2 separate regions of the Homo sapiens genome follow, and region 1 is linked to region 2. The links come from fine-mapping of genetic effects on plasma protein levels. A gene starts in region 2. The other region holds a variant in brackets. All regions are shown on one strand. Distances are from middle to middle.

Region 1 (11,914 bases), 13 kb before region 2:
GTAGCTAGCACTGCAGGCGTGTATCACTATGCTCAGCTAAGTTTTTTATTTCATAGAGATGGGGCCTTCCTATGTGAGAGGAGGCCTAGCACTTTGGGAGTCCAACGGTATGTTGTGTTCTTGAGATGAGGTCTCACTCTGTCACCCAGGCTGGAGTGCAATGGCATAATCTTGGCTTACTGAAGCCTCCACCTCCCGGGCTCCAGCGATTCTCCTGCCTCAGCCTCCCAAGTAGCTGGGATTACAGATGCGCACCTCCATGCCCACCTCGGCCTCCCAAGTGCTGGGATTACAAGCGTGAGCCACACGCCCGGCCCCTATACAGTTTTTTTTTTTTTTTTTTCTTGAGATGGATGCTCATTCTGTATCCCACGTCCGACATAGGAGGCTGCGGCAGGAGAATCGCTTGAACCCGGCTGGTGGAGGTTGCAGTGAGCCGAGATTGCGCCACTGTACTCCAGCCTGGGCGATAGTCAGAGACTCAGTCACAAAAAAAAAAAAAAAAAAATTTGGGCTGGGTATGGTGGCTCACGCCTGTAATCCCAGGACTTTGGGCGGCTGAGGCGGGCAGAACACCTGAGGTCAGGAGTTTGAGATCAGCCTGGCCAACATGGCAAAACCCCGTCTCTACTAAAAATACAAAAATTAGCTGGACATGGTGGCAGATGCCTGTAATCCCAGCTACTCAGGAGGCTGAGGCAGAAATGCTTGAACCTGGGAGGTGGAGGTTGCAGTGAGCCAAGATCGTGCCATTGCGCTCCAACCTGGGCAACAGAGTGAGACTCCGTCTCAAAGAAAAAAAATTTTTTTTATAGAGATGGGGGTCTTGCTATGTTGCCCAGTTTGCTCTCAAACTCCGGGCCCAAAGGATCCTCCCACCATAGCCTCCCAAAGTGTTAAATTGTTGAGATTACAGGCATGAGACACAGTGCCCGGCCAAGTGTCCTAATTTCTTATTGTCATTGAATTAGAGCTCACAAATATGACCTCATTTTACTTTAATTACCCCTTTAAACACGCTCTTTCCAAACACAGTCACGTTTTGACATGCTGGGGGTTAGGACTTGAACATATGAATTGGAGGAGACCCATTCAACCCATAACAGAGCATTTCTCCACTCCACGCAAATTCTTTGTAGGACGCAGAAGCCAGCACTGCACCAGCCAGCCAGAATCCCAGAACTGTCCTTTGACAGTGGAGGCTAGAGTGCCCAGGAATGCATGATGGGGGACCCAGCTCTGATCTGGGGGTCTCAGAGCCTGAGGAACTGACTGGCAGAGGTCTGCGGGGTGAATGCGGTGGAATAAGTGACTGGAGGATGGAGGGGGTTCCAGGCATTGGGCACGTGTTGAGGCCTAGAAATGGGAGACCTGGCTTCAAGAAGGCCCGAGAGGCCAGGCGCCGTGGCTCACGCCTGTAATCCCAGCGCTTTGGGAGGCCGAGGTGGGCAGATCACGAGGTCAAGAGATGGAGACTATCCTGGCCAACATGGTGAAACCTCATCTCTACCAAAAATACAAAAATTAGCTGGGTGTGGTGGTGGGTGCCTGTAGTCCCAGCTACTCTGGAGGCTGAGGCAGGAGAATCACTTAAACATGGGAGGCGAAGGTTTCAGTGAGCCAAGATCATGCCACTGCACTCCAGCCTGGTGACAGAGCAAGACTCCGTCTCAAAAAAAAAAAAAAAAAAAGGGCCCAAGAAGAGGGCAGTGAGAGTAGGCATTCGGGAGGAGGTGTGGTCTCCACCCAAGAGACACCCTCTATCCAACCCTCGTCTTGTTGTTATTATTTTGTTATTTGACTTAAAAGCTTATTTTTCTTTTTCTTTTGAGATGGAGACTCACTCTTGCTCCGGCTGTGTTGCAGTGGCATCTCGGCTCACTGCAACCTCCGCCACATGGGTTCAAGTGAGCACATCCGGCTCATTTTGTATTTCTTTTTTTTTTTTTTTTTTTTGAGACTGAGTCTTGCTCTATCGCCCAGGCTAGAGTGCAATGGCCCAATCTCGGCTCACTGCAACCATTGGCTCCCTGGTTCAAGCGATTCTCCTGCCTTAGACTCCTGAGTAGCTGGGATTACAGGCACCGACCACCCCGCCCAGCTAATTTTGTTTTTCTCTTTTTTTTTGAGATGGAATCTTGCTTTGTCTCCCAGGCTGCAGTACAGTGGTGTGATCTTGGCTCACTGCAACCTCCGCCTCCCGGGTTCAAGAAATTCTTCTGCCTCAGCCTCCCAAGTAGCTGGGACTACAGTCACATGCCACCATGCCTGGCTAATTTTTTGTATTTTTAATAAAGAAGGGGTTTCCCCATGTTAGCCAGGATGGTCTCAATCTCCTGACGTCGTGATCTGCCCGCCTTGGCCTCCCAAAATGCTGGGATTACAGGCGTGAGCCACTGTGCCCCGCCTTCTTTGACTTTTTGTAGACACCAGGGGGTGGGTCTTGAAGTCCTGAGCTCAAGGGGTCTCCTGCCTTGGCCTCCCCAAGTGCTAGGATTATAAGTAAAAGCCACCAGCCACCATGTGCAGCCTGCAAATGTTACTTCTTTTTTTTTTTTTTCTGGAATAGAGCCTCACTCTGTCACCCAGGCTGGAGTGCAGTGGTGCGATCTCAGCTCACTGCATCCTCTGCCTCCTGGGTTCAAGCAATTCTCCTGCCTCAGCTCCCGAGTAGCTGGGATTATAGGAACCTACCACCACACCCTGCTAATTTTTGTATTTTTAGTACAGACGAAGTTTCACCAAGTTGGCCAGGCTGGTCTTGAACTCCTGACCTCAGGTTATCCACCCGCCTCAGCCTCCCAAAGTGCTGGGATTACAGGCATGAGCCACCGCGCCCGGCCTGCAAATGTTACTTCTAACAACAGCCTTTGAATTTGTGAGAACTCAGTGCTGGGTCCCCGTCCCAGCAGCGTGAAGCTCACACGGGAGTTGGAAAGAGTCCAGGGTTCCACACTGGCCTGCTGAAGATCCCGAGTGTCATGTTTTTGAGGTTTTTTTTAAGAAACAGAGTTGGCTGGGTGCGGTGGCTCACGCCTGTAATCCCAGCACTTTGGGAGGCCAAGGCGGGTGGATCACCTGAGGCCAGGAGTTCTAGACCAGCCTGGCCAACATGGTAAAACCCCATCTCTACTAAAAATACAAAAATTAGCCAGGCCTGGTGGCAGGCACCTGTAATCCCAGCTACTCCAGGGGTTGAGGCAGGAGAATTGCCTGAACCCGGGAGGTGGAGGTTGTAGTGAGCCGAGATTGCGCCTTTGCACTCCAGCCTGGGGGACAAGAGTGAGACTTCGTCTCAAAAAAAAAAAAAAAAAAAAAAAAAGGCCGGGTGGCTCACACCTGTAATCCCAGCACTTTGGGAGGCTAAGGTGGGCGGATCACGAGGTCAGGAGATTGAGACCATCCTGGCTAACATGGTGAAACCCCATCTCTACTAAAAACACAAAAAATTAGCCAGTGTGGTGGCGGGCACCTGTAGTCCCAGCTACTCGGGAGACTGAGGCAGGAGAATGGCGTGAACCTGGGAGGCGGAGCTTGCAGTGAGCCGAGAATAGCGCCACTGCACTCCAGCCTGGGCTAAAGAGCAAGACTCCATCTCAAAAAAAAAAAAAAAAAAAAAGGGTCTCAGCCAGGCACAGTGGCTCATGCCTATAATCCCAGCACTTTGGGAGGCTAAGGTGGCGGATCACGAGGTCAGGAGTTAAAGACCAGCCTGGCCAACATAGTGAAACCGCTGTCTCTACTAAAAAATACAAAAATCAGCTGGGCGTGGTGGTGAGCGCCTGTAGTCCCAGATACTTGGGGAGGTAAGGTGGGAGGATCACTTGAGCCTGGGAGGTTGAGGCTGCAGTGAGCCGAGATTGCACCACTGCACTTAAGAGCCTGAACAACAGAGTGAGACCCTGTTTTAAAAAAACAAAAACAAGGCTGGGCACGGTGGCTCATGACTGTTATTCCAGCACTTTGGTAGGCCAAGGCAGGTGGATCACCTGAGGTCAGGAATTCAAGACCAGCCTGGCCAACATGGTGAAACCCCGTCTCTACTAAAAGTACAAAAATTAGTCAGGCATAGTGGCAGGCACCTGTAATCCCAGCTAGTAAGGAGGCTGAGGCAGGAGAATAGCTTGAACCTGGGAGGCAGAGGTTGCAGTAAGCCGAGATCGTGCCACACTGCACTCCAGCCTGGGTGACAAGAGCGAGACTCCGTCTCAAAAAACAAAAACAAAAAACCTATGGCTTTCACATGTTTCCTTTTCTAAATGAGGTCCTGAGTATGTGGGACTACAGGCACAAACCATTGCACCTCGCTAATTTTTTTTGGTTTTTGTTTTTTTTGGTAGAGATGAGGTCTTACTATGTTGCCCAGGCTGATTTTGAACTCCTGGCTTCAAGCAGTTCTCCTGCTTCAGCCTTCCAAAGTGCTGGGATTTCAGGCGTGAGCTGTCCTACCTAATTTTGTCCAGCCTAACTTTTTTTTTTTTTTTTATTTTGGAGATGAGGTCTGGCTATGGTGCCCATGCTATTCCCAATCTCCTGGCCTCAAGCAATACAGTCACCTCAGCCTCCCAAGTAGCTGAGACTGTAGCCCGAACTGCCAAACCTTGCATCACACCCTCCTGTCTCTCTCTTTTTTTTTTTTTTCTGAGACACGGTCTCCATCTGTTGCCTCAGCTGGAGGGCAGATGATGGCTCACTGCAACCTCCACCTCCTGGCTCAAGTAATCCTCCCACCTTCAGCCTCCCAAGTAGCTGGGACTACAGGTGTGTGCCACCATGCCCAGCTAATTTTTTTAATTTTTAGTAGAGATGGGGTTTTGCCCTGTTGCCCAGGCTGGTCTGGAACTCCTGACCTCAAAGAATTCATCTGCCTC[G/A]GCCTCCTAAAGTGCTAGAATTACAGGTGTGAGCCACAGCTCCTGGTACATCACACTCTATCCTCAGGTTCAAGTGTCTCTGCCTGGCATCCAGTGTCTTCCAGGACCAGATCCCATCTCCCATGGTCTATCCCAGGCTTCCTGGTCAGCTCAGAGTTCCCAGAATATGAAATCTCCAGGCCTTTCACTTGGAATGTCCTCCATGGCTTGATTATCTGACTGGAGATCCTTTAAAGACTTGCTTTACTTCCTTGAATGCTTGTTCCTCCTCCTTGTCACAATAACACAGTCTATAACATCAGTAACCCAGTATGTAACATCATCCACCAGAAGCAATCATAATAGACGGTCTACATTCATTGAGTGATAATTGTGTGCCACACTTTCTAAGCATTTTATTTGACATCCCCCCCATTGGAGGTGGAGTCTATGATGCCTCTCCTTGAATATGAGCTGGCTTCAGTGACTCACTGTAGTGAATAAAAAGTGAGAGATGTCACACTGTGTGAGTTCCAAGGTTAAGTCATCAGAACTGAAACAGATCCCACCTGGCTTGCTCTCTTGGGATATTTCCCTTAGACCGTAGCTGCCATGTTGAGAGGAAGCCCAAGCCACAGAGAGGCCATGTGCAGATATTCTGGCCAACAGCCCCAGCAGAAGTTCAAGGCAACAGCCAACACCAACTACCAGATATGTGAGCAAGGAAGCCTTCAACGTGATTCCAGCCCCAGCCACTGTGTCTGCAAGTATATGACAGATCTTCAGGAAGAACTGCCAAGCTGAACCAAGTCAAACCCCAGAACCATGAAAGATAGTAACTTTTTTTTTTTTTTTTGAGATGGAGTCTCGCTCTGTCACCCAGGCTGGAGTGTAATGGCGTGATCTCGGCTCACTGAAACCTCTGCTTCCTGGGTTCAAGCAATTATCCTGCCTCAGCCTCCTGAGTAGCTGGGATTACAGGCATGCGCCACCACACCCGGCTAATTTTCTGTATTTTTAGTATAGATGGAGTTTCACCATGTTGGTTAGGCTGGTCTCGAACTCCTGACCTCGTGATCCACCTGCCTCGGCCTCCTAAAGTGCTGGTTGTTGTTTCTTTTTTTTTGTTTTGTTTTTTGAGACGGAGTCTGGCTCTGTTACCCAGGTTGGGGCGCAGTGGCATGATCTCGGCTCACTGCAACCTCTGCCTTATGGGTTCAAGTGATTCTCCAGCCTCAGCCTCCTGAGTAGCTGGGATTACAGGCACGCACCACCATGCCCAGCTAATTTTTTATTTTTAGTAGAGACAGGGTTTCACCATGTTGGCCAGGCTGGTCTTGAACCCCTGACCTCAGGTGATCTGCCCGCCTCGGCCTCCCAACGTGCTGGGCTTACAGGCATGAGCCACTGCACTCAGCCGATAATGACTTTTTTTTCTGAGATGGAGTCTTGCTTTGTCGCCCAGGCTGGAGTGCAGTAGTGTGATCTCAGCTGACTAAAACCTCTGCCTCCCAGGTTCATGCCATTCTCCTGCCTCAGCCTCCCAAGTAGCTGGGACTACGGGTGCCTGCCACAATGCCCGACTAATTTTTTGTATTTTTAGTAGAGACGGGGTTTCACCATGTCAGCCAGGATGGTCTCGATATCCTGGCCTTGCGATCCGCCCGCCTTGGACTCCCAAAGTGCTGGGCTTACAGGCATGAGCCACCACGCCCAGCCTAGTGACCTTTTTTTCATCACTATATTGGAATTGTTTGGTATGCAGTGTTAGATAAGCAGAAAAACTTGCACTAACTCACTGAATTCTCCTTTCTCAATCCTGTGAAAGGAATGCATTTCCGTTTTATTTTATTTATTTTATTGTAATTTTTCTTTTTGAGACAAGGTCTCACCCTGTTACCCAGGCTGGAGTGCAGTGGTACTGTCTCAGGTCACCACAACCTCCACCTCCTGGGTTCGAGTGATTATCCTACCGCAGCCTCCCAAGAAACTGGGATTATAGGCATGTGCCACCACAGCTGGCTAATTTTTTTTTTTTTTTTTTTGAGACAGATCCTTGCTCTGTCACCCAGGCTGGAATGCAATGGCACGTTCTCTGCTCACTGCAACCTCCACCTCCCAGGTTCAAGCGATTCTTCTGCCTCAGCCTCCTGAGTAGCTGGGATTACAGGTGCGCCCCACCATGCCTGGCTAATTTTTGTATTTTTTAGTAGAGATGGGGTTTCTCCATGTTGGTCATGCTGGTCTTGAACTCTTGATCTCGTGATCTGCCCGCCTTGGCCTCCCAAAGTGCTGGGATTACAGGCATGAGCCATCGCACCCGGCTGCCTGGCTAATTTTTGTACTTTTGGTAGAGACGGAGTTTCGCCATGTTGGCCAGGCTGGTCTCGAACTCCTGGCCTCAAGTGAATGAACCACCTGCCTCGGCCTCCCAAAGTGCTGGGATTACAGGCATGAGACACCGTGCCTGGCCCACATTCCCATTTTAAAGATGAAGAAACTGAGGCTCAATCTGGGCAACGTGTGAAACCGAAGTTACAGCATAAGTAAGTGGTAGAGCTGGGTTGTGAACACAGGTGGACGCTACACGGGGTCATTCCCACCAAATTCTGTAGTCTGTACATGTATAATATGGGGTCTTGGGCAGGAATGGTGACTTGTGTCTGTAATCCCAGCACTTTGGGAGGCCGAGGCAGGTGGATCACCTGAGGTTTCGCCAACATGGTGAAACCCCATCTCTACTAAAAATACAAAAATTATCCAGATGTGGTGGTGTGTGCCTGCAATCCCAGCTACTCTGGAGGCTGAGGCACGAGAAGCACTTGAACCCAGGAGGCTGAGGTTGCAGTAAGCCAAGATTGCACCACTACAATTCAGCCTGGGAGACAAAGCTAGACTCTGTCTCAAAAAAACAAACAAACAAACAAAAAAAACGCCAGGCGTGGTGGCTCACACATGTAATCTTAGTACTTTGGGAGGCCAAGGTGGGTGGATCCCCTGAAGTGAAGAGTTTGAGACCAGCCTGGCCAACATGGTGAAACCCTATCTCTACTAAAAATACAAAAAATTAGCTGGGCTTGGTGGCAGGTGCCTGTAATCCCAGCTACTAGGGAGGCTGAGGCAGGAGAATCACTGGAACCCGGGAGGAGGAGGTTGCAGTGAGCTGAGATCCTGCTATTGCACTCCAACCTGGGCAACAAGAACGAAACTCAGTCTCAAAATAAATAAATAAATAAAAAGCTGGGATCTGGCTTTTGCCCAGGCTGGAGTGTAGTGGCAGGATTATAGCTTACTGTAGCCTCAATGTTCTGGGATCGAGTGATCTTCTTACCTCAGCCTCTCAAGTAGTTGGGAGTACAGCACATACTACCAGGGCCAGCTTGGTATTCTGTGTCTGCATGTCTTATTATTATTATTTTTTTTGAGAGAGAGGCTCTCACTGTGTCACCCAGACTAGAGTACAGTGGTGTGATCGTGGCTCACTGCAGCCCTGAACTGAGCTCAAGCGATCCTCCTGCCTCAGCCTGCTGAGCAGGTAGGAATACAGGCACGGGTCACTACACTGGGCCAATTAAAAATATTCTTTTTCTTTTTCTTTTTTCTTCCTTTCTCTCTCTCTCTTTTTTTTTTTGTGGAGACAGGTTCTCACCGTATTGCGAAGCCTGGTCTTGAACTCCTGGGCTCAAGCAATCCAACCACCTCAGCCTCTCAAATTGCTGGGATTACAGGCATGAGCCTCTGCACCTGGCCTTGAAGTGTGTCTTGAGGCCTATACAAGTTAGGCAGCTTCTTGGCAGCCCTGGTGGCACACAGTGGGAAGGAACCCCTCCTGCCCTTGTCAGCCCCTGTTCTGACCCCCTCTCCATTTCCAACAACTGGGTATTCCCAGTTATGTTGACTGCTCTAGGGCACAGGCTATCTATCATTTACACTCTAGTATGAGTCAGTCACTACTTCTAGGGTCTGAGGATTAGACGTGAGACATCCGTTACTTTCTGGCAATTCTCCTTCCGACTTATTTCCCCAAGAAGCAGCCACACTCGTCACGTGCTCTAGCTGGCGACTTTATTCAAAGGGGAGAGGGAAAAGTGAGAGAGTTGGGTCATTTCTGGGATAACCTGGAGAGGGGTGGGTCTCTGGAGCTCCAGGGAGGAGGGACAGACATCTCAAAACTATTACAGAAGGCCGAGAGGACGAGGGGTGGGGTTCTGGGTGTCCTGAGGGGCGGGGCTGGGGGAAGGGTCGCTCCCCCAACTCAGGGCCACGCGTCCGCTAGGGGCCGCTGCCGCTTCCACTGCCACTCCCGCTGCCCGCAGCGTCCAGGATGGAGGTGCGAGGGCTGCGGGAACGCCGGGAGGGAGCTTCCCGGCCCCGTCGTCCTGGTCTGGGACGAGGTACCGCGGAGATGGAGATGTTGAAGCAGTGACGGGCTCCAGGAGCAGCCACCGGTAGGGCGTGGCCCAGAGCCGAGCGACAAAGGTCCGTCCCGTCTGCGAAGGTCTAGGAAAAAGTGGAGTTAAGGCCCTAGTGGGCGGAGTCCAGAGACGTGGGGGGCGTGGCCTCGGGAAGGGAAAAATGTGTAAATTCCTTAGGGATTGGGGTCAGAGCCGGAGCGTGCGGCCTGGGAGTCTATGTGCGGAACGTGAGTGGGGGCAGGTCCTTGGGGAGGGTGAATGTTCTTACTGGGCCCTAGCGGGATGAATCAGGGTTGGGGCAGTTGGGGGGCGCGCAGAGAGGTCTGTATCAAGGCTGGGGTTTTGTAGAGAGTGACTGGGCTTCTGGGTCCTCCAGGGTAAAATGTGGATGGACCCAGAGCAGGAATGGTTTCTTGGGAAGGGCAAATCTGGACTTCGAGAGCTTTTGGGGTCAAAGGGCACAACCCAGTAGGAGGTTGGGCTAGGGAAGGGTGGGAGCAGGGACCTGGGGAGTACCAATCCGGTCTCTGGGGTCTAGACACGGTAAGAAAGAACTTGGTGGGGGCCGGGGGCGGTGGCTCACACCTGTAATCCCAACACTTTGGGAGGCCGAGGTGGGCGGATCACCTGAGGTCAGGAGTTCGAAACCAGCCTGGCCAACATGGTGAAACGCTGACTCTACTAAAAATACAAAAATTAGCTGGGCATGGTGGCATGCGCCTGAAATCCCAGCTATTCGGGAGGTTGCGGCAGGAGAATCACTTGAACCCCGGAGGCGGAGGTTGCATCGAGCTGAGATCGCGCCACTGCACTCCAGCCTGGGTGACAAGAATGAAACTCCGTCTCAGAAATAAATAAATAAATAAATAAATAACTTGGTGGGGAGGATCTCAGTCTCTTCCCTTCACCTTCTGCCCCACGCTCACCTGTCCATAGGTAAGGCAGCTGGGCTCACAGCCCCTTTTTTCTGAGAGTGGGAGCCAAGTCGGGCCGCAGGTGATATCATCTTCGCAGTTGGCGAACCTGGAGATGGCGAGTGGAGAGGTGGGTAAAGCCTTTGTAGTTACATTCCAGCGCGATTCTGGCTCTTCTAGACTGTGTTCACTATATGCCCCCACCTCGGATCCAGGCCCCGCCTTTTAGAACCACTCCCCTGCTAACTAACCCCATCTCTCCAGATTTCACCCTGCCCCATATTCTATCAGATCTTTCCATACTCTGGGCCACGTCACAACTGGCCTTGTCCCTACAGACCTCAGACCATTAGTTACAGGCCAGTCCCTCATATTTTCCCACTCTTTCGTTTTCCTTTTATTTATTTTTGAGTCAGGGTCTTGCTCTGTGACTCAAGCTGGAGTGCAGTGGCGTAAGCATGGCTTATGGCAGCTTTGACCTCCCAAGCTGGAGCAATCCTTCCACCTCAGTGTCTCAAGTACCTGGGACTATAGGTGCGCACCATCATGTCCGATTAATTTTTTTTTTTTTTTTTTTTGAGATGGAGTCCTGCTCTGTTACCCAGGCTGGAGTGCAGTGGCCCAATCTCTGCTTCCTGCAACCTCTGCCTCCCAGGTTCAAACAATTCTCCTGCCTCAGCCTCCCGAGTAGCTGGGATTACAGGCGCCCACCACCACGCCTGGCTCATTTTTGTGTTTTTAGTAGAGACGGTGTTTCACCACGTTGGCCAAGCTTGTCTCAAACTCCTGACCTCAGGGGATCTGCCCACCTTGGCCTCCCAAAGTGCTGGGATTACAAGCATGAGCCACTACGTCCGGCCCATGTCTAATTAATTTTTAAATTTTTTGTTGAGACTGGGTCTTGCCATGTTCCCCAGGCTGATCTTGAACTCCTGGCCTCAACCAATCCTCCTGCCTTGACCTCTCAAACGACTGAGATTACAGGCACCCACCCTTTTACCTTATCTTTTCAATCAAGAGGACTCACTCCTTAAGAAATCTCAGGGCCTGGCTGGGCATGGTGGCTCACCCCTGTAATCCCAGCACTTCGAGAGGCCAAGGCAGGCGGACCACCTAGGTCAGGAGTTTGAGACCAGCTTGGCCAACACGGTGAAACACCGTCTCTACTAAAAATACAAAATTTAGCCGGGCGTGGTGGCGGAAGCATGTAATCTCAGCTACTAGGGATGCTGAGGCGGGAGAATCACTTGAACCCAGGAGGCTGAGGTTGCAGTGAGCTGAGATCGTGTCACTGCACTCCAGCCTGGGCGACAAGAGCAAAACTCCATCTCAAAAAAAAAAAAAAGAAAAAAAGGCCGGGCACGGTGGCTCACGCCTGTAATCCCAGCACTTTGGGAGGCCGAGGCGGGCGGATCACGAGGTCAGGAGTCTGAGACCAGCCTGACCAACATAGTGAAACCTCGTCTCTACTAAAAATACAAAAATTAGCCGGGCATGGTGGTGTGCGCCTGTAACCACAGCTACTCAGGAGGGTGAGGCAGGAGAATCGCTTGAACCCGGGAAGTGGAGGTTGCAGTGAGCCGAGATTGCACCACTGCACTCCAGCCTAGGTGACACAGTGAGACTCCATCTCAAAAAAAAAAAGAAAGAAAGAAAAGAAAAGAAATCGCAGGGCTATGAAAAGCCACATTGCCATATGGCAGGTATCTTAAAAGCTGGGGGCTTCTCATGCCTC
Region 2 (5,299 bases):
GAGGTTGCGTCTCCTGTGAAGACGGGTCTCCTCAGTGAAAATGTTTCTCTGTAAGCATGAGATCTCTCCTGGGGCTGTAGAGGTCTCGTGGGTGGGGACAGTTTCCCACAGAGGATATGGCTTTTAGGGGTCTCTGATTGGGGGTATCCTTTACACGGGAATTGTTACTCCTGGGATCTTTCTCTTCGGGGAATGCCTCTTTCGTGGGGAGGGGGATGGCTTTTGAGAGGAAAGTCACCTCTCAGGGACCATATCTATTAGGAATGATTTTCAGGGTTGGGGGAGTTCTTGATTGGACAGGGCGTCCCTGTGGAAACTATCTCCCCCTGGGAATGTGTCTCACCAAGGGGGTCTCTGGGGGATGAATGTAGAGGGAATGTATCTCAGGGAGAAGGCTTCCTTTGGGGTGTTTCTTGACTGAGGGTTCTACCCCTGAGAATATCTCTCCTCTGGGGTGTCTCTTTTTATAGTGGTCTCTCGGCAGCTTGGCTCCCATGGGGGCACCAGGAGGCTCCGCCCCCCCGCCCGCCCCTTCCCCCCGCCAGCGCGGGCAGCGGTGGCTGAGCCCGGGCTCGGGCGCCCAGACGCAGTGACGGCGCCGGGCCCGCCCCACTTCGCTCCGCCCCCGCCCCCGCCACCCCTCCCCTCAGCCGCCGCCGCCGCCGCCGCCGCGGTCCCCGCGGCTTCTCACTCCCTCCCTCCTCCCTCCTCCCGCCGCCGCTACCTCCCTCCTCCCTCCCCGGGCCGAAGTCGCCGCCGCTGCCGCCATGGACGATTCGGGCCTCATCCGCCGCCGGAGGCTGCAGGTACGCGGCTGCCTGGGCCCCGGGTGGAGAGGAAGGGGTCGGCGCCCTGGGGCGGGGCTGGGCAGGAGGCGGGAGAACTTGCACTAGGGTCAGCCGGGACGCCCCCACCCATAGGTTCGGGACGCTAACCGCGGGGAACGCTGTGGCCGCGCGTCCCGCCGCGCTGGGGACCCCGCCCCTCAGGCGCCGCCCGGCGATCCAGGGAGCTGCCGGAGGGGTGCAGCCTAGCGCTCCCCCTCGAGGATCGCCTGAGGGGCGCCTGGCCCGCCCTAGGGGGATGGGGCTGGGGCCGAAGTCATCGCCCTGGCGCCTCGCCAGGCTAGGGGTGAGGGGGCGCAGAGCAAAGTTATTGCCCTAGGGCTCATGCCCCTCGGGGCCATCGGCGCCGCTGGAGGCGTAAACATGTTTGTGCGGCAACCTCGCCCCTCACCACCCCAGGAGCCCCCTCCCGAGGCATAGGACGCCCTGCGTCCCCCACGCACCTGCCTGGCCATCAGGATTCTTCCTACTGCCCTAATTGGACAGGCACCTAGACAGCTTTCTCACTCTTCATTCCACCTCCTCCACTACAACATCCGCCCCCCCACCGCGATCCTCAAGTCCAGCCCAGCTTGTGGGTGGGCGGGAGCGATTTTTAGCTCCTTGCAGCCTTAGAAGATGCTGGTCTCGAGGCTGCGCAGGCGCAGGAGCCGTGCGTCCACTGCACGGAGTGGGACACTGAGGATCGCTGTGGAGTGTGGGGAAGGCGGGGACAAACTCAGGTGTCAGGAGCTCCTACCTCCAAGGTGGGGAGGGATTCTGTAGCCGAGAAGCGTCCTCTGCTCGTCTTCAGCTGCGTTTCTGAGGGGTTAGTACGGAAGTTCAGGGTTAATACGGAGGTCCGGTCCCAAACATCCCAGAGGGGAAGGTGATGATATCTGTGCCCCAAGGCCCTGCCTGGGGTCTGGCCCTTCTGAGCCTCCTTGGGGCTCAGCCCCAGGCTTGGTAATCTGGAGTTTAGATAAAGCCGAGAATGGGCCCAGACTCAGGCTCCATCCCCAGCCTGAATCTTGGGAAAAGAGGATTCAAACCCTCACCTAGGGCTTCGTCCATTTCTAGACTCCCCTAATCCATCATTCCCGAGGTTGAAGGCCAAGGGGAGCTGATTGGTCAGTGCAGCAGGAAAAATGGTGATCAGACTGCAGGAAGGACCTTCCAGGCGTCTGGGTAACGCCGGAGCCAGACATGAGTTGGAAAACTAATTTGCTTTCAGAGCCCAGATGGCCCGATCTCCGGAGCCTAGGCCTCTCTGAAGTGCTCCCACATTCTCTCCGCCTCTCGGGGGTGGGTTAGGAGAGTGGGTTCCGAGAGAAGGGAGGCAGCTGCGGCAAAGTTAGAGCAAGTACTGCAGCAGCCAGGTTGGGTCCGCGCCGTCGGGTTTCTGAGAAAAGGGAGGAAAGAGGCGGGGCCTGCACGGTGTGTCCCCGCCCTCCAGGCCGGCGTCAACTCTCATTGGCTCAGCGCCACGCGGGACTTTAAACTCCCGCTCGAGACACCGCCCCCAACGCGGAATGCTTCCACTCACCCACCCACCCACTCAACCCCAGGCTTGCTCTGGGTCCGGCGATCCCTGTCGGAGTCCTGTCCCCACCGCTTCCCTTCTGGCGGGATTAACCACTTCGCTGCCTGGATACACCCACATACGTTGGTGCATCCTCTTAGGAACTGTCGCATCACTGCTGAGCGCCCGAGGGTCCCCTGTGTGCAGCTAGGCTCTTTTTTTTTTTTTTTTTTTTGAAACGGAGTCTCGCTCTGTTGCCCAGGCTGGAGTGCAGTGACGCAATCTCGGCTCACTGCAACCTCCGCCTCCCGGGTTTAAGAGATTCTTCTGCCTCAGCCTCGCTAGTAGCTGGGATTACAGGCTCATGCCAACATGCCCGGCTAGTTTTGTATTTTTAGTAGAGAGTGGGTTTCACCATGTTGGCCAGCCTGGTCTTGAACTTCTGACCTCAGGTGATCCACCCGCCTCGGCCTCCCAAAGCGCTGGAATTACAGGCGTGAGCCACCACGCCCTGGGATCTTATATGTAGACAGCATCCTGAGTTCGAATGCCCTGTCTGCAGTGTCAACTATTAATCCTGTGCGGGAGAAGCGGAATCCACTTGGCCGAGCGGCTCTGCAGCTGAGATTGGAGGTGGCGTCTGTTTACACTGACGCCAAAGACCCGAACTTCCGCCGCTCCAGTTTGACCCTTTCTTCGTCCCTAGAATGTTTGGGGGCGCTAGCGGGTGGGGCTGGGTTCCAGGTCTTCTTCGGGTGGTGCTTAAAAGCCCTCCAGGGGCTTACCCTCCAAGGCCGGTTACCCGGATCTGGACACCCTGGGCTCTGTGGCCAGAAAATCCAGGTCTTGATTTCGCTTGGGCCATTGCAGACACGCAGCCAGGTCGACTGGTCCTCATTCACTCCGGTCATGCAAAGACAGAGGGAAAACCTGGTTTGGATTATCGGTCACCCGTGGCTCGGGAGGGCAGGGCTGCCCTTTGGCCCCGCCTATATGTTTGTCCGTTGTACAACGGGGTGGGAGGACGCTGTGGCCCATCCTCTGTCATGCAGCATGTCCCTCCTTAATAACGCCTGTTCTCCAGACTTAGTATTTATTGAGCACTTGCTATGTGCTAGGCACCATGCTAAGGGGCTAGGCATCTGCATCAACTCCTAAGATCCTCAAGGAGACACGGGACTATTGGAAGGTCATTTGCCAAGGTCATAAAAAGCAGAATTGAGATTTGAACCTAGGCTTTTTGCTTTTAGAGATCCTAGAAATGTCTAGGACATCCCTCATTTTCCTTTTGTTGGAGTCCCCTCCAAAGGCCTTTTGAAACTCTCCCCCAAATCTTTCCACCTGCAGCCCCACTCAGTTTCCTTCCTTCCACCTCACCCTGTGGATAGAAAACTGGCTGGCAGGTGTTGCCCCTTGTACCCCATTCCTTTCCTCAGAAAAAAGCCAAGACCCCATATCTCCTGATCCCTACAGTGACTTCCTAAGAGCTTGACAAATGGAAGGTGACCTTCTTCAAATGCAGACACATAAAGTTAATACTCACTAATTATTATTATTGTCATTATAAAAAATGACTATGCGGCCATCACCTGAATTTCCATTTTTATTTTTTTATTTTTTAAACTTTTTATTATTTATTTATTTATTGTTAATTGAGAGGGTGTCTTACTCCAGCAGTGGTGCAATCATAGTTCACTATAACCTCGACCTCCTGAGCTCAAGAGATTCTCCCACCTCAGCCTCCGTGGTTCCCATTTTAAATCTCAGTTGTGAGTCACTCTACTTACCTACCCCCCACCCCCTACCCCAACTCTATGACTCTAGCTGGGAGTCAGATAGATCTGCTGAGGTGTAGATGAGTCATTCATTCTTTCAACCTTTCATTCATTCAACCTTTCATTCATTCATTGAGTACGCTAAGCTTATTCCCGCCTCCAGGCCTTTGCCCTTGCAGTTCCCTCCACCTGGAATGCTCTCTCCACAGATCCTCCCATGGCTGGCTCTTATCTTTCAGCAACCAGCTTAAAAGTCACCTCCACAGAGCAGCCCTGTCTGACAATGTGTCTCCATCCTAGCCATTGTCCATCACATCACCCTGTTTAATTTATTCATAAGACTAATTATTGTCTAAAATGATTTCGTTCACTTCTACACTAATCTTGTTTAATGTCCCCTTTACCCTATAAATACTAGTCCCAAAAGGCCAGAAACTTTTTTTTTTTTCTCCTTGAGACAGAGAGTCTTGCTGTGTTGCCCACGCTGGTGTTTCCTTGGACTCAAGCGATTCTCCTGCCTCAACCTCCCAAGTAGCTGGGACTAGAGGTGCACACCACCACACCGGACTTGTAATTTATTCACTACTGTGTCCCTAGTGCCTAGGATTGGGTCAGCATACAGTAGGTGCTCAAGACATATTTTTCAAATAATGATTCCTATTTCATTTGCACAAACACACGCTGATATGCCAACTCACTTGCCTTTATATGGCGCCCCGCCTGTGTACGTGGGCCTCTGTTGGTCTCTGAGGGTCAGGAGAGGAATCACCCAGGGATCCTCTCCCCCAAGAAACTTGGCCCGCAGTGCATGGCCAAGGGTGAAAGTGACAGTGCTGAAGAGGGGCCTGTCTTACCCTGCTTCTGCTCCTCCAGGGAGTTGATAATGCTTGTGGGCAGCAACGGCAGGTCCACGCTGACCTTCATCGTTTTGCCCCTTTGCCTTCCAGAAGGATTTGCCCCTGCCCCGGAAAAGCAGCAGGTGAGCCTGGGGAGAGACGTGGCGGGGGCTGGCCGCCCCTTCTCCCGCCGGGGTGGGGGCGCCAGGCGAGTGCGCGGGCGGGGCCTGGCTCGCCGGCACGCAGCAGCGCCCCCTCCCGGCCGGCTGCAGCCGCAGGGCCCTCCCCTTCCCTGCCCTCCCCTGCCCGCTGCGGCGGCTGCAGCCTCCGCCCCGCGCGCTT

Direction of the effects. Alleles are on the strand shown, and positions count from the first base shown. The strength of an association depends on the size of the effect and on how common the allele is.
In carriers of allele A in region 1, the plasma level of the protein whose gene starts at base 1,379 in region 2 tends to be lower than with G alone (moderate association).

What was found. A credible set is the group of variants that fine-mapping cannot tell apart. PIP is the chance, under the fine-mapping model, that this variant and not a neighbour inherited with it causes the effect. Protein levels are from antibody-based Olink assays in UK Biobank. Linkage for the fine-mapping came from a reference panel and not from the study's own genotypes, which makes the PIPs less certain.
Region 1: its variant is the best candidate, but not a certain one, in a credible set for the plasma level of the RTBDN protein (UK Biobank, PIP 0.62).

The regions. Positions count from the first base shown.
Region 1 is chr19:12,816,584-12,828,497 of GRCh38, forward strand. It overlaps RTBDN (retbindin), which reads right to left. Exons shown (of 6, transcript NM_001270441.2): 5 at 10,192-10,288; 6 at 8,899-9,350. The coding sequence ends at 9,123. RTBDN-AS1 (RTBDN antisense RNA 1) reads left to right here and starts at 9,150. Exons shown (of 3, transcript NR_187779.1): 1 at 9,150-9,329; 2 at 10,202-10,309. RefSeq lists a cis regulatory region at 8,548-9,348 and an enhancer at 8,917-9,693. The variant G/A (reference allele first, on the strand shown) is at 4,872.
Region 2 is chr19:12,833,201-12,838,499 of GRCh38, forward strand. RTBDN (retbindin) reads right to left here and starts at 1,379. Exons shown (of 6, transcript NM_001270441.2): 1 at 1,289-1,379. RefSeq lists enhancers at 1-141, 1,337-1,866 and silencers at 4,928-5,111, 5,116-5,295.